2 separate regions of the Homo sapiens genome follow, and region 1 is linked to region 2. The links come from fine-mapping of genetic effects on gene expression. A gene starts in region 2. The other region holds a variant in brackets. All regions are shown on one strand. Distances are from middle to middle.

The links.
Region 1: its variant is fine-mapped to the expression of ARCN1 in whole blood (TOPMed, PIP 0.98).

The regions. Positions count from the first base shown.
Region 1 is chr11:118,591,748-118,603,435 of GRCh38, forward strand. ARCN1 (archain 1 coat protein complex I subunit delta) reads left to right here. Exons shown (of 10, transcript NM_001655.5): 7 at 962-1,109; 8 at 1,843-1,951; 9 at 5,960-6,164; 10 at 8,878-11,286. The coding sequence ends at 8,967. It overlaps LOC124902765 (a long non-coding RNA gene), which reads right to left. Exons shown (of 2, transcript XR_007062908.1): 2 at 11,152-11,688. It also overlaps the pseudogene RNU6-1157P. Among named protein-coding and RNA genes, the nearest start is that of PHLDB1, 10 kb to the right of the region's middle. The variant T/C (reference allele first, on the strand shown) is at 5,575.
Region 2 is chr11:118,569,020-118,580,391 of GRCh38, forward strand. ARCN1 (archain 1 coat protein complex I subunit delta) reads left to right here and starts at 3,390. Exons shown (of 10, transcript NM_001655.5): 1 at 3,390-3,531. The coding sequence starts at 3,529. It also overlaps a transcript of IFT46 not described here. RefSeq lists enhancers at 3,052-3,181, 3,692-3,771.

The DNA.
Region 1 (11,688 bases), 23 kb after region 2:
TTGTTTTTGCACAGTCTCTCTCTGTCATGCGGGCTGGAGTGCAGCAGCACAACCTTGGCTCGCTGCAGCCTTAACCTCCTAGGCTCAAGCAATGCTTCCTCTTCAGCCTCCATAGTAGCTGGAACTATAGGTGTGCACCACCACACCCAGCTATTTATTTATTTATTTATTTATTTATTTTTTATTTTTTGAGACGGAGTTTCACTCTTCCTGCCCAGGTTGGAGTGCAATGGTGTGATCTCGGCTCACCGCAACCTCTGCCTCCCGGGTTCAAGCCATTCTCCTGCCTCAGCCTCTCGAGTAGGTGGGATTACAGGCGTGCGCCACCATGTCCAGCCCCAGCTAACTTTTGTATTTTTAATAGAGATAGGGTTTTGCCATGTTGGCCAGGCTGATGTCAAACTCCTGACCTTCAATGCCCCTCTCACCTCAGCCTCCCCAAAAGCAATTTCTTTTAAAAAGATAAGACTATCTTAATTGGCTTGGATTTTAACAACTTTAAGTCTCTAGGCAAAATTGCAACTAGACTTTACACAGAGCTTGCCCTTTTCTGCTACTTTATATAAGGCCAGAACTGCTGTCTGACCCAGGCAGCTGATCAGGGTCTTACTGGAGCCTTCTGCTTGGCAAACCTGGCCCCACCATGAACCTGCTCCCTGTGAAGTATTTTTGGAAAGAACTTGGTTAATAGTCTTTTAACTTTTTCAGGTGCAAACTTGTTCTGTAATGGCTTTTAGAGTTGAAATTAGCTTTTTTTTTAAAAAATTACTAGTTTTTAAGTATCTTAAATCATTTTAAAATAAGTCTTTGAAGAAGGGAAATCTTTCTTCAAAATGAAAAAGAATTGGAATTTGTTAGGTACTCTATTTTGGATGTTTAGATTGTGGGCCATATAAGCCTAGTGAGGGGTTGTTTCTCGTCTATCTGAACCTCAGGAGTTTTCCTTTCCCTCTCATTCTAGACCCATCCAAATGTGGATAAAAAACTTTTCACTGCAGAGTCTCTAATTGGCCTGAAGAATCCAGAGAAGTCATTTCCAGTCAACAGTGACGTAGGGGTGCTAAAGTGGAGACTACAAACCACAGAGGAATCTTTTATTCCACTGACAAGTAAGTGCCTCTGGCCAGTCCCACTAAGCTAGTTTGCATTGAGAACTAGAAATAGCCCTTGCTGGTACACTTTTATTTTTATTACCATAGCAAAGTTCTTTCTGACAAAATGACTTTCTTTTGAAATGGACCTGGTGCTGCATTTTGTATATTTTTATCATTAGTTTTCATTTTTAATAGCTTTCATTTTGAAACCATTGTAGTTTTGTTGTTGTTATTGTTTTAGAGACAAGGTCTTCTTCTGTTGCCCAGGCTGGAGTGCAGTGGGGCAATCATAGCTCACTGCAGCATCAAACTCCTGGACTCAAGCCATCCTCCTGCCTCAGCCTCTTTAGTAGCTGGGACTAGGACTATAGGCACATGCCACCACATCCAGCTAACTTTTTTTAAAAGACACAAACTCCCTCTGTCACCCAGGCTGGAGTGCAGTGGTGTGATCATGGCTCATTACAACCTTGAACTCCTGGGTTCAGCTGATCTCCCACCTCAGCCTCCTGAGTAGCTAGGAGAACAGGGAAGTGCCACCACGCCTGGCTTTTTTTTTTTTTTTTTTTGGTATAGGTGGAGTCTCACTTTGTTGCCTAGGCTGGTCTTGAACTCATGGCCTCAACCAATCCTCCCACCTCGATCCTACCACCTTGGTCCTCTAAAGCGCTGGGGTTACAGGCATGAGCCACTGCACCCAGCCATCTTTTTCTAATATTCTAGTATGACTGCTTTGCTTTCTCCTCAGTTAATTGCTGGCCCTCGGAGAGTGGAAATGGCTGTGATGTCAACATAGAATATGAGCTACAAGAAGATAATTTAGAACTGAATGATGTGGTTATCACCATCCCACTCCCGTAAGTGCTGTCCCTGTGTCCTCTACGGTGGACTTAGAGAACTGGTCTTTTGGAACTCATTTTGGAGTCAGCACCTACCTGACCTGACTGTCCATTCAAAGATACTTCTTTAAAAAGCTAGTTGTGAAAGAAGCCAGATACAAAAGGCTGCATGTTATGTGATTCCACTTCTTTGTCTTTCTGGAAAAGGTAATACTATTGAATAAAAATGAGGAGGTAGAGAAGAAGGTACTTCACTTCAGAGGGGCACAAGGGAACTTTTGGGAATGATAGGAATGTTCTAGGACTTGTGTTTGCTTTGGCAGCACAGGTACTAAAATTGGAACCATACAGAGAAGATTAGCATGGGCCCTGTGCAAGGCTGACATGTAAGTTATGAAACATTTCATATTTATAAATAAGTAAAGCAAGGAAATTGTTTTTTTGAGACAGAGTCTCACTCTGTCACTGGAGGTCACTGGCACGATCTCAGCTCACTGCACCCTCCACCTCCCAGGCCCAGGCTATCCTCCTGCCTCACCCTCCCGAGTAGCTGGGACTACAGGCGCACACCACCACGCTTGGCTAATTTTTGTATTATTTGTAGGGACGGAGTTTTGCTGTGTTGTGCAGGCTGATCTCAAACTCCTGAGCTCAAGTGATCTGCCCGCCTCGGCCTCCCAAAGTGCTGGGATTATAAGCGTGAGCCACCACACCCAGCCAAGAATTGCTCTGTGACTTGATTGTGGTGGTGCTTACTGCATACACTTGTTGAAATACATTGAGCACTTGGAAGGGATGGATTTTACTGACTTTAAAACCAAATTGAACAAGCCAGTTGTAGATCTGGAGCTGTTTTTATTTATTTATTTATTTTTTATTTTTATTGGAGACTGAGTTTCACTCTTGTTGCCCAGGCTGGAGTGCAATGATGTGATCTCGGCTCACTGCAACCTCCACCACCTAGGTTCAAGTGATTCTCCTGCCTCAGCCTCCCGAGTAACTGGGGTTACAGGCATGTGCCATCATGCCCAGATAATTTTTGTATTATTAGTAGAGACGGGGTTTCACCATGTTGGCCAGGCTGGTCTCAAACTCCTGACCTTAGATGATCTGCCCGCCTTGGCCTCCCAAAGTGCTGGGATTATGGGCGTGAGCCACCGCACCTGGCTATTTTTATTTTTATTTTTTTGAGACAGTCTCACTCTGTCAGCCAGGCTGCAGTGCAGTGGTGCAACCTTGGCTTACTGCAACCTCCACCTCCCAGGTTCAAGCGATTCTCGTGCCTCAGTCTCCCAAGTAGCTGGGATTACAGGCGTGTGCCACCACGCCCAGTTAATTTTTGTATTTTTAATAGAGATGGGGTTTCACTATGTTGGCCAGGCTGGTCTCAAACTCCTGTCCTCAAAATGATCCACCTGCCTTGGCTTCCCAAAGTGCTGGGATTACAGGCGTGAGCCACTGCACCTGGCCTGGAGCTGTTTTTAGATGTTGGTCCTCAGCTTGTTTGTGTAGTAATGAAGATTTCCAGAAGGAGGAGCCATTTGTCAGTCAAACTTTCTGTTTTGCAGGTTTCAAAGAAATTGAGTCTATCGGGCTGAATGTTTCATTTTCACGTGCTAGTCTCTAAACTTTCACTAAAGATGAGAGTGTGTTCAAGGGAACTGTTGATTCTTGTTGAACAAGATGTCTACATTAGTTACAGTAAATTTCCTAACAGCCCTTTTGGAGCATAATTTATATACAATAAACTACACATATTTTAATTGTATAATCTTGACATGTTTACACTTGTGAAACCACCACCATAATCAAGATAACAAAAATGTCATGTCAACCCCAGAAGTTGAGTTCCAATAAGCTTTTGTTGTACACTTAAATGGCCCACTATCTAGGATCAACTGGAAATGGTCTCTACCTTATCTTTTTAGTAACATTTACAGTGAGCATGCAGTTATTACTTCACAGTAAATCCTAGCTCCTTTCACCTACCCATCAGCCCTCATGATTAAGCACAATGTTTAATTATGAGCACCAGTAAGTGTATTCTTAGTGTATCTTTACTGTTATGTCGCTCAGTTATTGCTGCAGAGAAAATGGTACTAATTTGCCAGGCGCAGTGGCTCACGCCTGTAATCCCAGCACTTTGGGAGGCCGAGGCGGGCGGATCACGAGGTCAGGAGATCGAGACCATCTTGGCTAACACAGTGAAACCCCGTCTCTACTAAAAATACAAAAAATTAGCTGGGCCTGGTGGCGGGCGCCTGTAGTTCCAGCTACTCCGGAGGCTGAGGCAGGAGAATGGTGTGAAGCCGGGAGGCGGAGCTTGCAGTGAGCTGAGATCGCGCCACTGCACTCCAGCCTGGGTGACAGAGCGAGATTCCGTCTCAAAAAAAAAAAAAAGTACTAATTTAATTCATAGTTTTCTTCCCTTTTTGATAATTCAAGCCTTTACATTATCAGGTCTGGTTTTAGTCATTCTTGTTTCCAATTTTAAAAATATACTTTATTACCAGTATCCCCTTTAATGGGTAACCATCTTATCCTCTACAGTATGGTTATTGCTTCAGAACAATAGATGGCTGCCTTGAACTGTTGTAGGACTTGGGTGTTGGTGACAGGTAGAGTTTTGTTTGTCAAGATTTAGTTTACTAGACTATTTATAGAATGCTACAATTTTGAGGCCTGTCTACCCTATAATTGTGGTTGTGGTGGTTTCCTGTATTCTAGTTCAGTTTTGCAATGGTCTCCAGAAGAGACCCTTACACAACATTTTACTCCCGTTGTCTAGAACTGATCAAATTAGAAGAGATCAGAATCAGAATTAGAGCAAGGGCACAGAGAAGGAACATAAAAGAACCAGGACCCTGAAATTGATAGGGAAGAGTTAATAGTCTTATGCCACCCTTAAAGTTTACTTTGTCTCCCTTATTTACCCTATCCCTAATATAAACATTGAGTGTCACTGGTGAATTAAAAGCTGGTAAATTTAGAATGTGTAGGAGTAGGTGACACTGCCTGTCAGCCGTGTGTAGGGGTGCAGAGTAAATCTTAACTAGCCCTGCTTCTCTCGCAGATTAAGGACAACTACGGATCTGTTTCTCCCATCATGTTTCCATTTTGCCCCAGGGGTAATTGTGCTTTCACTTATCAAATAAAAGTCCATTTACTGGATTGTAAATCAAATAAACCCATTGGTGTCAACTTCAATAAGTTTGAAACATTCTGAAATCTTTAAAAACAAATTCTCGGCCGGGTGCGGTGGCTCATGCCTGTAATCTCAGCACTTTGGGAGGCCGAGGCAAGTGGATCACGGGGTCAGGAGATGAGACCATCCTGGCCCGCATGGTGAAACCCCGCCTCTACTAAAAATACAAAAATTAGCTGGGCGTGGCGGCACACGCCTGTAGTCCCAGCAACTTGGGAGGCTGAGGCAGGAGAATCGCTTGAACTGGGGAGGCGGAGGTTGCAGTGAGCTGAGATCACGCCACTGTACTCCAGCCTGGCGACAGAGCAAGACTCTGTCTCAAAAAACAAATGAACAAGAAAACAAATTCTCTCAAAGGCCTCCATTCATCTCCACTATTGATGTTTAGAGTTTTCCCCCACTATTATCAATCTGCTTGTTTCCCCATTGTCTCCTA[T/C]AAAGAGTGCTACATTATGTTAAAATTCCTTATTTATAGGGCAGCAACCTATTGGTGCAGGGTTTTTGGAAACATAGCCATCTTAACACATCTGTTGGTCGCAGTCCCCAGATCTAGTCCTTAAGTTGGAGCAGCCCATAGGCATATCTGCCAAATACCTATTTTTGCATATTAACTATATCTACAGAGGGAATTGAGTGAAACTCTTAGCCCAAGGTGCTAGGACTTCATCGTTTGATCCTTGAAGTTATTAGCCTTTTTTTCCCCTGAAATTGTAGTCCTAGAAGGCAAAATTTGGGGATCATATATCAAATTTGGGGTTGGTTTTCCGTGGTGGAGTTCTAGCTCTGAACAGCTACCTTGACCAGAATGTTTCTCACAACAGGTCTGGTGTCGGCGCGCCTGTTATCGGTGAGATCGATGGGGAGTATCGACATGACAGTCGACGAAATACCCTGGAGTGGTGCCTGCCTGTGATTGATGCCAAAAATAAGAGTGGCAGCCTGGAGTTTAGCATTGCTGGGCAGCCCAATGACTTCTTCCCTGTTCAAGTTTCCTTTGTCTCCAAGAAAAATTACTGTAACATACAGGTACTCCATTTTAGTTGAGAACATATATAGGGAAAGTGGTAGGACAGTAGGAACACGTATAGGATGCCAGACAGGTAGCATGGCTTTTTGTGGTCAGATAAAGCTCAGAAAAAAACTGATGTCTCCTACAGGAATTCCCTTTCTAATTCATTGTATGATCGTGGTCAAATTCTTTTATTGCTTTACCTCAGTTTTCCTCTCTAGATCAGACAAAGTAAAGAAATGGAATGTTAATACAGATAAAAGTACTTGTGGATTATGCAAGATTCATAAACACTTAGTTGCCTGTTTTTTTTTAACCTTATATATTTTAAAGTCGATTTGCCAAAACACCCCAACACATGGTTTTTTTAAGGCCTTGCTGTCACTTGATTTATACCCAAAGAATGAAATTGTTTTATTTAGAAGACAAAATTACTACAAAAAAAAAATCCATTCTATTACAAATGGAAATTATTTGAGGGTTATTTATGTCACAGCTCCCTTTATTAGTACAAATAATCATGAGCCAATTCTGTTGCAAACTCTGTCCTTTAGGTAGGCAAAGCAATGGAGATGTGTGAGCTGTTCCTTCGGATTTTTTTTTTTTTTTTTTTTTTTGAGATGGAGTTTTGCTCTTTTCACCCAGGCTGGAGTGCAATGGCGCGCTGTCAGCTCACCGCAACCTCCGCCTCCCAGGTTCAAACAATTCTCTTGCCTCAGCCTCCCAAGTAGCTGGAAATACAGGAATGCGCCACCATGCCCTGCTAATTTTTGTATATTTGGTAGAGACGGGGTTTCTCCATGTTGGTCAGGCTGGTCTTGAACTCCCGACCTCAGGTGATCTACCCGCCTCAGCCTCCCAAAGTGATGGGATTACAAGTGTGAGCCACAGTGCCCAATGGATTTTTTTCCTTTTTTTCTGAGACGGAGTCTTGCTCTGTTGCCCAGGCTGGAGTGCAGTGACATGATCTCGGCCCACTGCAACCTCTGCCTCCCGGGTTCAAGCAATTCTGTCTCAGCCTCCCCAGTAGCTGAGATTACATGCGCCTGCCACCATGCCTGGCTAATTTTTGTATTTTTAGTAGAGACAGGGTTTCACCATATCGGTCAGGCTGGTCTCGAAATCCTGACCTGAGGTGATCCGCCCACCTCAGCCTCCCAAAGTGCTGAGATTACAGGCGTGAACTACCACGCCTGGCGGATTTTTTTTTTTTTTAAGACGGAGTTTCACTCTTGTTGCCCAGGCTGGAGTGCAATGGCGTGATGTTGGTTCACTGCAACCTCTGCCTCCCAGGTTCAAGCGATTCTCCTGCCTCATCCTCCTGAGTAGCTGGGACTACCGGCATGCGCCACCACGCCTGTCTGATTTTTGTATTTTTAGTAAAGACGGTATTTCACCATGTTGGCCAGGCTGGTCTCAAACTCTTGACCTCGTGATCCAGCCACCTCGGCCTCCCAAAGTGCTAGGATTACAGGCGCGAGTCACCGCGCTCGGCCCGGATCATTATTTTTTAACTCATCATTCTTCCAGTTTTTATTGTTGTTGTTGTTTTGAGACGGAGTCTTGCTCTGTCACCAAGGCTGGAGTGCAGTGCGATCTCAGCTCACTGCAGCCTCTGCCTCCCAGGTTCAAGTGATTCTCCTGCCTCAGCCTCCCAAGTAGCTGGGACTACAGGCGTGTACTGCCACACCCAGCTAATTTTTTTTTGTATTTTTAGTAGAGATGGGGTTTCACCATGTTGGCCAGGCTGGTCTCTAACTCCTGACCTCAGATGATCCGCCCACCTCGGCTTCCCAAAGTGCTGGGATTACAGGAGTGAGCTTCCACGTCTGGCTGTTCTTCCAGTTTTTTAATTTGCATTACTAGGACCCAGTTTATATTATTAATATTCCCCTCTTTTTGACTTGCTTGTTGTTCTGGCCCTACCTTAGCTTCCCATATGGTCTCCGTCTCCCCTGTAAATGCTTAGAAAATTGCAGCTTCCTCCCTTGAATGATTCCAAAGAGCAGTTCTCTCTCCCTATCCTGTTAGTGACATAACCCCATCAGTGTTGGAAGCAACTGTATTGAACTCAAGACATTAGATAGAAATGGGTAAATTTTCCTATTGGGGCTATTCAAAGATTAGGACATTATAATTGCTCTCCCAAAACTTCATTAGAAAATACGAATCAGTGGTTCAAGTGTTGTATTGGTGCCGTTATAGGTACCATTGTTACATGTAATTAATTAAGCTGGACATTTATTTATTTAAAAAGGAAAAACCTCATTGGACCAGCCATGCCTAAAAAATAAGTATGATAGAGCAGCTTACTGGGACTTTTAACACGAGACTTTGAGAGCAGAGCAAATGAATAATGTGAAGAGCTAGAACGTTGCCTTTTGGGTCAGAATGTTAATATATCATCCTGATAGAATGTCTATGAATTTCATAGGTTATACAGGGCAGGGCTGGGCTGTGGCCACTCATTTTGGAGCTTTTACTTAATACTACGGAACATCTCGTCCCAACAGTTGTCTTTTCTCCATCTAGAAGAAAAGCAGCTTAATCATTTTGGTGGGGAAGAGTGATGCTGTGACTTTCAGTTGTGAATTGAACATTTTTCTAGTATTTTACAGTTACTTTTAATACCGCTTTTAGGGAAATTGATATGTTCTGTAATGAGAATGTAGTCAACATGATGGAGACTCAAACCTCCTGCTTTACCTTACTCTTTGTTTATTTTCCTAGGTTACCAAAGTGACCCAGGTAGATGGAAACAGCCCCGTCAGGTTTTCCACAGAGACCACTTTCCTAGTGGATAAGTATGAAATTCTGTAATACCAAGAAGAGGGAGCTGAAAAGGAAAATTTTCAGATTAATAAAGAAGACGCCAATGATGGCTGAAGAGTTTTTCCCAGATTTACAAGCCACTGGAGACCCCTTTTTTCTGATACAATGCACGATTCTCTGCGCGCAAGGACCCTCGACTCACCCCCATGTTTCAGTGTCACAGAGACATTCTTTGATAAGGAAATGGCACAAACATAAAGGGAAAGGCTGCTAATTTTCTTTGGCAGATTGTATTGGCCAGCAGGAAAGCAAGCTCTCCAGAGAATGCCCCCAGTTAAATACCTCCTCTACCTTTACCTAAGTTGCTCCTTTATTTTTATTTTATTATTATTATTATTATTATTATTATTTTTTGAGATGGAGTCTCACTTTGTAACCCAGGCTGGAATGCAATGGCATGATCTCAGCTCACTGCAACCTCCGCCTCCTGGGTTCAAGCAAGTCTCCTGCCTCAGCCTCCGAGTAGCTGGGACTACAGGTGCACGCCACCACGCCTGGCTAATTTTTTGTATTTTAGTAGAGACGGGGTTTCACCGTGTTGCCCAGGCTGGTCGCGAACTCCTGAGCTCAGGCAATCCGCCCACCTCAGCCTCCCAAAGTGTTGGGATTACAGGCATGAGCCACCATGCCCAGCTGCTCCTTTATTTTAATCCCTAAATATAATCCCTAAATATAGTTATATTTCATACTTAGTTTGTTTTTAAAAAGTTTTCTCTGTAGAAAATTTTAATCATTCATACCCTTTACCTTTAGGTTTTTCTTTCTATACATTCAGTCAGGCACTGGGATCATCTGTTTACAGGCATTATATTTATTTGGCACTCCTGGAACAAGTATATCTAACCCATTCTTGATTTTTGGACTATTCAGGTGAACTATTTGAGGGGTATGGGGTCTAGAAGTTAAAAGATACGCATGTCTTCTGTTCTTTTCCCGTATCAATTCATTCCTTCATCTCTTTGCCAAGTTGTTTTCCTTTCAGGGCCTGTCCTTCCAGTTTAGAACAGTACCATGAATCCCACTTGTGTCAATATTAAAGATAGCTGAGAAGCACCTTTCAAATGGCACAGTCCCTCTTCAAGATGTCTAAAAGAATGGTTATGTCTGTCCAGTTAGGGATTTCACATCCACATGTAATCATGTCTGCTGCTGTTGCTACCCAAATTTTCATTTCTCCACATTTTGGGTACTTAAGCTAAAACGTAATGGCCACAGTCTGTAATCCATTCACATTCCTCAGTTTCACCACCTCCCTCTTCCAGACTGCACTCTCTGTCATCAGTCCCCTCCTTTCTAACAGAAATGGGGTTATGATTTTGAAGGCTGTGGGTTCAGGGAGTCTTTGCCAATCCTGTTGGCCCTAAACTATCAAGGAGGCTCCATTTCACCATTTGATTTTTTGCATTTCAGGAGGCAACTGATTGTTTCGATATGTACATATTACTCACGTATACCCCATTTCCTTCCAGTCAGCCCAACATTTTCCACCAGTCTGTCCCCATCTCTGAAATCCTTCCTTCTCTTTCCCCCTAAGTCTTTTGAGTGTCATCATGTACTGGTGGTTTCTCGGTTCCATCTCATCCATTTCCTTTTCAATGGAGACTACAGCGTCAGCCAGCTCAGCCTTGGCTTTTAACTCAATATTCCAGTCCATAGGGGTGGTTAAAAGTTGCTGCAAGGCTGCAGGCACTGGCAGTGGGAAGAGGCAGACGACTAGATGACTTCTGCACTTTTAGCTGGTTGAAAAGTACCACTCCCACTCTGAACATCTGGCCGTCCCTGCAAAGAGTGTACTGTGCTTGAAGCAGAGCACTCACACATAAATGGCTGTGTGTGGAATTGCTTGCCAAAGAAGTTTCTAGCCTTTCCCTTTCCCCTAACTGCATCAGGGAAGAATTCTTATCTCTAGCTTGGTTTCCACATGAGGTTTTTCTGAGAAGGGCTTGGGACAAGAAGTCTGTCATGTTAGTTAAGCAGGCAAGAAATCCTACTAATCCAGTTTTGTTTGAAAGTTGTTTGTCCGTATGATTTTTTAAAAGTCAAGTTTAATTTCAAAAAACCTTTTTTTTCTGAGATTACTTTTGGGGTAATATTTAAAATGAGAGACATTTTGTAACCCTGTAAAATACATAGGGAATATAACATTCCAGTGTATACAAAGAAGGCAAATTCTTTAATCAAATAAAGCGCATTATAAAATGAGATGTTTATTGGATTATTGACTCACTTTGGTGTCTGCTTGTTGATTCAGGATGCTGTAATGGGACCTAACATTAAAAATTAATGACATGTTTTTTTTAAGAGAAAGTAATCTGTGAGAGTATTCATTGCCTTTTTCCATCTTATATGTATTGTGCTTCCTTGCGTATTTTTCTACATTTGATACATGCACTCCTGACAGTGTAGCTTTTGAATTTGATGCTACTTCTGGCCTTTTTGGGGATTGGAGTCTTAATTTTGTCAGACGGCAGTTGGAGAGTCAAAAAAGTCAGGCTTCATCTTTAATCTTGGAGTCTTGGAGTCTTCTCTTCCCCATTAGACCGTGATGAGAAGTGATCCAGGGATGAGGGATAATGGGAACAATTTTTGGGAACTGTTGATAATTCCCTCAGATAAACCTGCTTACTTTTTTTTTTTGAGATGGAGTCTCGCTTAGCTGCCCAGGTTGGAGTGTGGTGGTGCGATCTCAGCTCGCTGCAACCACGGTCG
Region 2 (11,372 bases):
CCTGTAATCCCAGCACTCTGGGAGGCTGAGGCAGGCAGATCACTTGAGGTTAGGAGTTCAAGACCAGCCTGGCCATGGTGAAACCCCATCTCTACTAAAAATACAAAAAACTAGCCAGGCGTGGTCGTCCATGCCTGTAATCCCAGCTACTTGGGAGGCTAAGTCAGGAGAATCCCTCCAACCCAGGAGGCAGAGGTTGCAGTGAGCTGAGATCATACCATTGCACTCCAGCCCGGGCAACAAAAGCGAAACTCCTTCTCAAAAAAAAAAAATTTTTTTTTTTAAAATATTGACTGGGCTCAGTGGCTCATTCCTGCAATCCCAGAACTTTGGGGGGACAAGATGGGAGTACTGCTTGAGGTCAGGAGTTCGAGACCAGCCTGGGCAACATAGCAAGACCCCCATCTCTCTAAAAAAGTTTTTTTAATGAAAAAAAACTTTAAAATACAGTTTGACATATATCCTCCCAGACATATAAAATTTAAAAATATTTGAGCTTTCTAAAGATTTCTATTAGAAGGCCATTGGAGATGGAATTGATACGGGTAAGAGCAAGAAGTCTATAATGCAGTGCTTAAGGGTATAGTCCAAAGTTGAACAGCCTTTGTTTGAATCCTCGCTTACCTACTTTTTAGCCATGAGACCTGTGGTGGGATAGTTTTCTTCTCTGTACCTTGATTTCCTCATGTGTAAAATGGAGACAATAAAGGTACCTATCTCAGAGGATTCTTGTGAGGATTAAATGAGATAATCTGTGTGAAGTTAGAGTAATGGCTGGTATGCTGTAAGTGTTCAATAAATGTTAGGGAACACACAGGAGATACAGAGGCAGTGTGTTTTAATGGAAAAAGCTGACTTTGTTTTTTTGTTTGTTTGTTTTGAGACTGAGTGTTACTCTGTTGCCCAGTCTGGAGGGCAGTGTTGTGATCTCAACTCACTGCAACCTCCGCCTCCCAGGTTCAACCAATTCTCATGCCTCAGCTTCCCAGATAGCTGGGAGTACAGGCATGAGACACCACGCCCAGCTTTTTTTTTTTTTTTTTTTTTTTGAGACGGAGTCTCCCTCTGTCGCCACGCTGGAGTGCAGTGGCATGATCTCGGCTCACTGCAACCCAACCTCCGCCTCCTAGCTTCAAGGATTCCCCCACCTCAGCCTCCCGAACAGCTGAGACTACAGGCACGCGCCACCATGCCCAGCTAATTTTTTTTTTTTTGTACTCTTAGTAGAGATGGGGTTTCACCATGTTGGCCAGGATGGTCTCGATCTCTTGACCTTGTGATCCGCCCACCTCAGCCTCCCAAAGTGCTGGGATTACAGGCGTGAGCCACCGCGCCCAGCCAGGAGAAAACTGACTTTGAACTTGGCTCTACCACTTACTAGTTGTGTGAGTTTGGACAAATGCTTAACTTTTTTGATCCTCAGTATCTTTATTTGGATTGATGTAAAAGATTGGAAATAACATGTGTAAAGTACCTGACACAAATGAAGCACTCAATTAAAAGTTGCTATTATACTTAATTGTGGACATACAGGTTTAATATGGATGAGTGCTGTTCGGTTGAGCTAAGGATGTAGGATAAAATGATTTAAGGAAGAACTACTGAATCAGCTATACTCTGAAAAATCTGAAATTTGGCATACAAGAAATAACATGAGAATCACAAGAACAGATTTTGAGTCTTGGTTCCATCATATACTGGTTTAGAAACTTTGGGTAAGTCACTTAAACTTTTCACCATTTTCTTCATATACAAAATGGACATGAGCACAACTGCCCTGCTTCCAGTGCATGTTTTTTTAAAGATATAATTTACAAATCATAAAAATTCACCTTTTAAAATTATACAATTTAGTGGTTTTTAGTATATTTGCCTCTATCTAGTTCCAGAACTATTTTTTTTTTAAGAGTCTAAGTCTCACAATTTGCACAGGCTGACCTTTAACCCCTGGTCTCAAGCCATCCTCCCAACTCAGCCTCCCAAGTAGCTGGGACTCTAGGATCATGCCACCATGCCTGGCTTAATTCCAGAATGTTTTAATTATTCCAGAAATAAATCTTACACTAATTAACTGTCACTCTCTATTCCTACCCTTCCTGAGCCCCTGGAAATCACTAAGCTAGTTTCTGTCTCTGTGGATTTTCTTCTATTCTGGATCTTTCGTATTAATGGAATCATATATGAGTGCCCCATTGTATCCGTCTTTTTTCACATAATATTCTCAAGGTTCATCCATATTGTAGCATGTCAGTACTTTATTCCTTTTTGTGACTAAATAATATTCCATTGCATATATATGCCACATCTATTGATGAATGGATTTGTTTGGATTGTCTCCACTTTTTGGCTACTATGAATAATGCTGCTATGAACATTAGAGTACACATTTTTGTGTTGACATATATTCAGTTCTCCTGGGTATGTACCTATGAGTGGAATTGCTCAGTCATGTGGTAATTTTGTTTAACTTTTTGAGGAACTGCCAAACTCTTTTCCAACGTGGCTGCACTATTTTACATTCATCCTCACCAACAATTATTATGATAGCCATCCTAGTGAGTGTGAAATGACGTCTCACCACGGGTCTGATTTCCATTTCCCTAAGGATATTCAACATTTCTTAATGTGCATATTAGCCATTTATATATCTTCTTTGGACACATATCTATTCAAATCTTTTGCTCATTTTAATTTTGTGTTTTCTACTCCCTCCATTTTGCAGATGAAGCCCATTTTTAGACAGGAATACTGTATTTGTCTTTTTATTGCTGAGTTATAAGAGTTCTTAGGCCAGGCGCGGTGGCTGACGCCTGTAATCCCAACATTGGGAGGCTGAGGCGGGCGGATCACTTGGGGTCAGAAGTTTGAGGCTAGCCTGGCCGACATGGTGAAACCCCGTCTCAACTAAAAATACAAAAAACAGCCGAGCGTGGTGTGGCGCGTGCCTGTAATCCCAGCTACTCCGGAGGCTGAGGCAGAAGAATCGCTTGAACCTGGGAAGTGGAGGTTGCAGTGAGCCGAGATCACGCCATTGCACTCCAGCCTGGGCGACAGAGTGAGACTCCATCTCAAAAAAAAAAAAAAAAAGTTCTTTATATATTCCGGATACTGGTCTTTTAGGCACACAGGTTATCCTGTATATTAAATAATAGTGGCTGTGCCAGCGGCTTGTTAAACTGTAAGATGTGACGCAAAATAAATGAAGGCGATGACAGTGAAAGGGGAGAGATACGAGGTTCCACAGCTGGAGGGTGAACGCCCCCTACACCTCCTGGGCTTAATCGTAACCGGAGCGGGGTACCCTCAATTTCCCCAGCCCACAGGCCCCGCCCCCCCCCCCGCCCTTTGACCTGCGCCGCTTCCGGTTGAAGACGTGGCTTGGGGCCGCCATCTTGGCAAGAGGCGAAGCGGCAGCGGTTCCTGTCAAGGGGGCAGCAGGTCCAGAGCTGCTGGTGCTCCCGTTCCCCAGACCCTACCCCTATCCCCAGTGGAGCCGGAGTGCGGGCGCGCCCCACCACCGCCCTCACCATGGTAAGATCCGAGCCAGGACCCGAACTCCTGGGGTCCGAGCCTCACCGTCTCTCCTTGTCGGCGGGCCTGGGGCAGGGGCCGGAGGAGCCCCGCCCTGAGGGTCTAGGGCAGAGTGCTTTTGCTCCGGGCTCGGGGAGCAGTGTGGCCTCCTGTGCCCGGTCTCCTGGAGATCCGATGGAGCTGACTCCAGTCCATCTGTCGTCGTGCCCGCTTCCGCACCACCCCCCAACCAGCTGGACTCCCTCGTTTGCTGGGACCTGCCCCTGAGACGGCCCGGCGTTTTTGCTCTGCGAGAACTTCGTGGTGGTGGTGCGGGTCCCAGGCTGCGGACCTCGGAACTGATGCTGTCCCGCCGGTTCCCTGGCGCTTAGGCTCAGCAGGCTGGGCCTGTCTCCGGAGGTTCTGGTCCTTCTGTTAATCAGAGCTTGTCTCCCACCCCCGGTGTTTGCTAGGCCGTTGATAACTCGAAATGCAAATCCACTGGTGTCCAGAAATTTTTCTTTTTGTTCAGAAGGGGGAAATGGAGACACAGAGCGGAAAGGAGTAACTTCTAACACTAATGTATAGGACCCAAGTGTCTCTGAAACCTTCCACTACTTCCGCAGAACTCACTTGTGTCCATTTGTTAGTGTGACTCGGGGTACATACACTGTGTAGACCACTGGGAAAATGTGAGCAGGTTCCAGAGAACACAGGGTTTGCCTTCAAGGAACTTATTGTCCAGGTGAAGAAAAATGTGTATGTGGCATGTCGTAGTCAGATGTCTCACAGGAGGTGGAGTAAGAGGGATGGGTTAGCCTCCGAGACCAGTTACTTGCCTTCCCATGCGTTATCTTTGTATACTCATCTGTTACAAGGATGAGAAAGGTTAATGTGGTTGAGGATGGAGGAAATCAGAACTGCTGACATCACTCAATCTTCCTTTATCGCTGTGATTTGTGGATATTCATGAAGTAGTAGACATTCTTTGGTTTCAAAAAAGCTAGTAATTTATTTTTCAGTGCACCTTATGTCCTTTAGTCTTTTGAAGGATGTTCTGTTCTGTTCTTTTTTATTCTTTTGTCAATAGATAACTTGATTTAAAACATCGTCCAGTGTACCTGAGAGATGGCAGAATGTAATTTGGTGGCAATCCTAATAAGTTCTATTGACAACCCTTTAGATAAGAACTTGGATAATGGGGGGAATTCATGCTTGGACTTTAGGCCACTGAACAGCTTTTCTCAGCCTCAGGTATATAAATTGCATCAAACAGGTTTGCCTCCTAAAATTTTTGTGTTGGACACAAAATTTCCAGAAACTTGTATTTTCAGTTTCTCCAGGAGGTTCTGTATTTGGTTAGTGATTTTGAAACTCAGTTCCCGTTTACACCCTGGAATTAATAATGCATTTTAGAGCATATTTTTATTTTAATAGTAAAGTTAAGGTCTTGTATTATATAAACCAGATAAAGGTAATCTTTCTAAAAATATTCTTTGTTAAAAGGTTCTTGGAACTTAGTATTTTTAATTCATTGATAACTGAGGGATGGTAAAGCCCTACGTGATATATATAAAATATAACTTTTGCATGCTATTTTGACATGTGTACGTATACATAGAGTTGTGTCACATATTTCTGAATTATTTGGGACTTAACATGATCCAGATACCCACAGATTTGTGTACTCTGGAGAACAATTTATCTCAGTACATTCTGCTCTGTAGAGTGTTAAGACATTGGTATGATTTCTGTGTAATGTTTTTGGGTCCTGCTCCTTTACAAACAGATCCCTGGACAGTAGAAATGTCCAGATAGGGTGAAATTTTTATCTAAAAGTTGTATCAAAATTTCCAGCGTTTATTTTAGCTCAACATTTCATTATGAAATTTTCCAACATCTGGAAAAGTTGAAAGAACTTTGTAGTGAATACCCATATAACCACCAACTAGATTCTATAACTAACATTTCACTATATTTTATCATGCATCTAATCATCCATCCATCCCTCTCTCCATTAAAAAAAAATATACATTTCAAAGTAAGTTGCAGATATCAGTACGTAAACATTGATTTTTTAAAAAATAAATTCCCTTTGGCTTTAGTTATTGAAGTGCAGAATGTCCTAGACTGCAAAGTTCCAATAGATAAATAAGTGAACAAATGCAGAAACAAATGCTTTCTCATGACTTCATCATAAAATAAAGTACAAAGAAAGGCATCTTTTGATTTTTTTTTTTTAAAGAGACAGGGTCTCACTATGTTGCCCAGGCTGGAGGGCAGTAGCTATTCACAGGCGCTATCATAGTGCACTGCGGCCTAGAACTCCTAGCCTCAAGCAATCCTCCCGCCTCCATATCCCAAGTAGCTGGGACTGTAGGCATGCGGGCCTTGATTTGATCTTTTTTTTGTATTCTGCAAATTAATGAGAACATGTTCTGACTTTTTTTCTTGTTTGTTTGGTTTTCGAGACGGATTCTCGCTCTGTCTCCAGGCTGGAGTGCAGTGGCACAATCTCAGCTCACTGCAACTTCTGCCTCCCGGGTTCAAGCTATCCTCCTGCCTCAGCCTCCTGAGTAGCTGGGACTGCAGGCGCCTGCCACCACGCCCAACTACTTTTTTGTATTTTTAGTAGATACGGGGTTTCACCATGTTAGCCAGGATAGTCTCGATCTCCTCACCTCGTGATCTGCCCGCCTCGGCCTCCCAAAGTGCTGGGATTATAGGTGTGAGCCATGGCGCCCGGCCCCTGTATTATTTATGTATCTTTTTAATTGTGTTTTGAGGGACAGCAAAGAAAGAAAATGATTCTCTTGAGTTTCCATTGATTTGCCATCTATTTATGTCTTCATATAGAAGTTCACTGCAGAAACTGATAACGGGTGTGTGTGTGTGTGTGTGTGTGTGTTTTAATTCTCTGCAAGCTTTTGTTTTAGAATAGAAATGTGATGGACTTAAAACCCTCACTGAGTAAATTACTTTTCAAGTTTTAGGTTTCGTATGTGGTCTACATTTTATTGTAATCTTCTCTCTGATTTTATCTATAATAGCTTCATATAAATAGAAAAGACAGAACAGTCCTCCCTGACAATTATAGAAACTAGCCTTAATATGACCATGAATTGTGTGTGCATGTATATGTGTATAAAATATTGCGGTGAATTACAAAGGAGAAGGTGACTATAATTCTGGAAGTAAGGGATCCTGAAGCATTTAGAGATTCAAGAAAGAACTTGACTTTTTTTGAGAGAGAGTTGTGCATATTTATCCTGAATTATTATACCACCTGTTATTCTTGTATCTCTCTTGCACACACAATTTGTTATGGTTAGACAATTTGCCTTCTGGCAGCCTAATGTTACTATAAAATATTGTTCCAAAGTGGTTAGAACTGGAGCAGTGGGTATAAAATGGAAGTATTGTACATTTTCTGTCACTGTAGTTGTTTTTTTTTTTTTCTGTTACTGTAGTTTTCAAATGCTTAGACTTACAGAACTTTAAAGACACAGAGCACTTTGGATTTCATGTAAACTAACCTCCTATGTTAGGGATATTTCAATAATCAATTAAGTGACTTATCCAAGGTCACATAATTAGTGGCAAAGGCAGAACAGAAACCTAATTCTCCAGGTTTTTTTACTTGAGGCACTTAACAATTCATGTAGTTAAGTCTGTGTAGGAGAGAGTTGTTATTTAGTCCAAAGATAGTGTACTCAAACCATGTAAGAATTATTAAAAGTTGTTTGGCAAAGCTCAACTTTATGAGGGAATTTTTTTTTTTTTTAACCGTCCTGGAGAGATCATCTAACTTATGGGCCCTCAGTTTTCACATCTGTAAGACAATCAAGGGCTCTTGCAAGTTCCTTTTAGATCTGGAATGTTTTTTCCAAAAATGTTAAAAAAAAAAAAAAAAAAAAAAACCAAAAACTTTGTAATCATATTTATTAATTCTTCCTCAGAGAAAATCAGATCAAATTTCAATAGGGAAAATTGTTAACTTACCTTTTAGTATATGCTATATTTTAATAATTGTTAAACCAGTAAACATTAATGTAAAGAGGTTTATTATTTCAAGAACTTTAAGAAGACAAATGTTAATTTAGGATAGGATAAATTTATCATGTTTAGAGGTGACCATACCTTCTAGCCATATTAGTAGCTGTAACAGAGAGACCTGTGTCAACTGCCTGGAACCTGTAATTTGTGGTGTCCTGGGTGTTCGGAGATTTATGCTATACTTAGTATGGGGAACTATGGTCCTATTTTGGAAGCCTTGTTTTGCTTGTATCTGGATAATGGAATGACTCAAAGAGAGACATATGATTTTACCCTACTTCTTTCTTCATCTTGACGTACTGAAAGCCTGGAATTCTGGCCAGGTGTGGCGGCTCATGCCTGTAATCCCAGCACTTTGGGAGGCTCAGGCGGGCAGATCACTTGAGGTTGGGAGTTTGAGACCAGCCTGGGCAACATGGCAAAACCCTGTCTCTACAGAAAAATACAAAAAATTAGCCAGGTGTGGTGGCCTGTGCCTGTAGTCCCAGATACTTGGGAGGCTGAGGTGGGAGAATCACCTGAGCCCAGAAGGTTGAGGCTGCACTGAGCCAAGATCACGCCACTGCACTACAGCTTGGGCAATAGAGCAAGACTCTGTTTCAAAACAAACAAATCCTGGAATTCATCAAAGCATGATCTAAATTCTGTTTCTTTCTTTCTTTCTTTCTTTTTTTTTTTTGAGGCAGAGTCTCACTTTGTAGCCCAGGCTGGAGTGAAGTGGTATGATCTTGGCTTACTGCAACTTCCGCCTCCCAGGTTCAAGCAATCCTCCCACCTCACTCTCCCCGTAGCTGGGACTACAGACGTGCACCACCAGACTTGGCTAATTTTTTGTATTTTTTGGTAGAGACAGGGTTTTCCCATGTTGACCAGGCTGGTCTCGAACTCCTGACCTCAGGTGATCTGCCTGCCCTGGCTCCCAAAGTGCTGGATTAAGGCATGAGCCACCGCTCCCGGCCTAAATGCTGTTTCTTCTATCAAGTCATCCCTGACTGTACCAGCTGGAAGTAATCTCTTCCTCTGAATTTCCACGCACTTTATCGGTTACTCTCTCATGTTACTTAACACATTCTGCCTCATATTACAGTTATTTGTGTTTGTGTCTTATCCCTATTAAGCTTCTTGTAGGCAGAATGCTAGCCTGTGTCATCTTAATTCTCAGAAAGCATGTTGTATGTATAGTAGATGTTCGATAAATAATTACTCAGTTAATTCTTATAATATCGCAAAAATGGAGATTACCAGTACCTATAATTAGTTTTTGAACATGCTCATCAGTAAAGTGGATGGGCCAGGTGCAGTGGCTCACTCCTGTAATCCCAACACTTTGGAGGCCAAGGCGCGCAGATGACTTGAGGCCAGGAGTTGGAGACCAGCCTGCCCAACATGGCAAAACCCTGTCTCTATTAAAAATAGAAAAATTAGCCAGGCTTGGTGGTGCTGGCCTGTGCCTGTAGTCCCAGTTACTCAGGAGGCTGAGGCATGAGAATTGCTTGAACTCAGGAGGCAGAGCTTGCAGTGAGCCAAGATGGCACCACTGCACTCCAGCCTGGACTACAGAGTGAGACACTCTCTCAAAAAATAAATAAATAAATAAATAAATAAATAAATAAATAAATAAATAAATAAAGTGGATAGTAACATACACCTTTTTGTTCCTTTTTCCCTCTCAAGTTGCTTTTGATGTTTTTACCTAAATTTTACTTGTATGGTATAGAGGTGTTTTTAACTCCAGTTGGAAACCTAAGAACTACCCTTGAGCCTGTAAACATTGTTTCTAACAGGTTTATTATTAGATATGGGGTTTCTATTAAATGCAGCATGTTTATATAGGTCTGAAGTTTTGGTCTGAGCTGTCCTTTCTTTAGGTGTTCATTTGATTTGTCTTATTTCTTCAAAACCTCATAAAATTCTAACATAGAGGACCATGACTTCCTAGAGCTATGACTCTCAACCTTTTAGGGATAGGAGGCTCTACAGGGATTACATTTACAATATGCTCCCATTTATTAATAATATTTCTCATCGCATGAGGGGATTTTCTATGGGCCATTTGAAATAACTTCTCTAGAGGATCGATGCATTCCCTGAAACTGTATGTAAAATTTTGGGGGGAGAGTCAATATTCATTATTTGAATATCAAAATATTGACAAAGGCAAAAATCCATTGCCTTGGCCGGATGCTGTGGCTCACACTTGTAATCCCAGCACTTTGGGAGGCTGAGGTGTGCGGATCACTTTAGCCCAGGAATTTGTAGCCTGGGCAACATGGCAAAACCCCGTCTCTCTTTTTTTTTTTTTTTTTTTTTTTTTTTTTTTTAATAAAAAAAGAAAAATCCATTACCTTGAAGTGGCATAAATTTTTTTCATGAGATGCATGTTTATTATTACTAATGGTGCTGTTTTACATCATGAATATATGTGCTACAAGTTGTATAGCACTTCTGAAGTACAGTTTCATTATAGTCATTTGGCCCTCATAATAGCTTGTAAGGTCATTAGATAATGCTGCATTTTATAGGAAAAGAAACGAGGTTAAGAGAGGTTGGGTAACTGAAGGTCAGGCAGATAGTAAATAGAAGAACAAAACTAGAAAATAGATTTTCTCACTCCCAGTCATTTAGTTTTTCTAATATCAGCTTGGTTCTTTGCAAATTTGGGACACTAGTTCTAAGTCTTTAGGAAAAGGAGAAACCAATGTGAAATGATCCCAAATATAAGGGAATTCCCTACTTTTCTGATGAAACTATTAAGAAGGAAAGCTTTTTGCCAATTGTATAAACTTTTTAAAATGCAGCCAAAATAGGCCGGGCGGTGGCTCATGCCTGTAATCTCAGCACTTTGGGAGGCCGAGGTGGGCAGATCACCCGAGGTCAGGCATTTGAGACCAGCCTGGCCAACCAACATGGTGAAACCCCATCTCTACTAGAAATACAAAAAAAAAAAAAAAAATTAGCCGGGCGTGGTGGCAGGCGCCTGTAATCCCAGCTACTCGGGAGGCTGAGACAGGAGAATCACTTGAACCTGGGAGGTGGAGGTTTCAGTGAGCGGAGATCTTGCCATTGCACTCCAGCCTGGGCAACAAGAGCAAAACTCCATCTTAAAAAAAAAAAAGGTAGCAAAAATAGTCAAATATGTTCTTAAAATAGTTAATAATTCACTTATATGTATATGTTTTAAATAAATAAAGTTTAATTTAGAAATAATTACTTTTTTCCATTTTCATATTAATAAAACAATTTTTTCTAGATTCTTTATGAACATCATGTCATCACTGGGGCCACTTTTTGAATCATCAGTTTGGTATTTAGCAGTTTTGAATCCATGTGTGATATATTGGCAGTTTGGGAAATTTTATCCCAAGTCATAAAAACCCATTTATATAATATTAGGATAGTTGCTTTTAAAAGGAATATTTTGTAACTGATATTCAACACATGAAATTGTGAGTTCTGGCTAGGCGTGGTGACTCATGCTTGTAATCCCAGCACTTTGGGAGGCCAAGGTGGGCTGATCACTTGAGTCCAGAAGTTCAAGACCAGCCTGGGCAACATGGTGAAACCCCACTTCTACCGAAAATACAAAAATTTGCCAGGCATGATGGCACCTGCCTATAGTCCCAGCTCCTTTCAGGGGGCTGAGGCAGGAGGATTGTTCAAGCCCAGAAGTTGAGGCTACGGTGAGCCAAGATTGCACCATTACAGTCCAGCTTAGGTGACAAAGTGAGACCCTGTCTCCAAAAAAAAAGAAAGAAATTGTGAATTCTGATCCTCAGGATAATTACTAAATCCAGTGACCTTTTGTT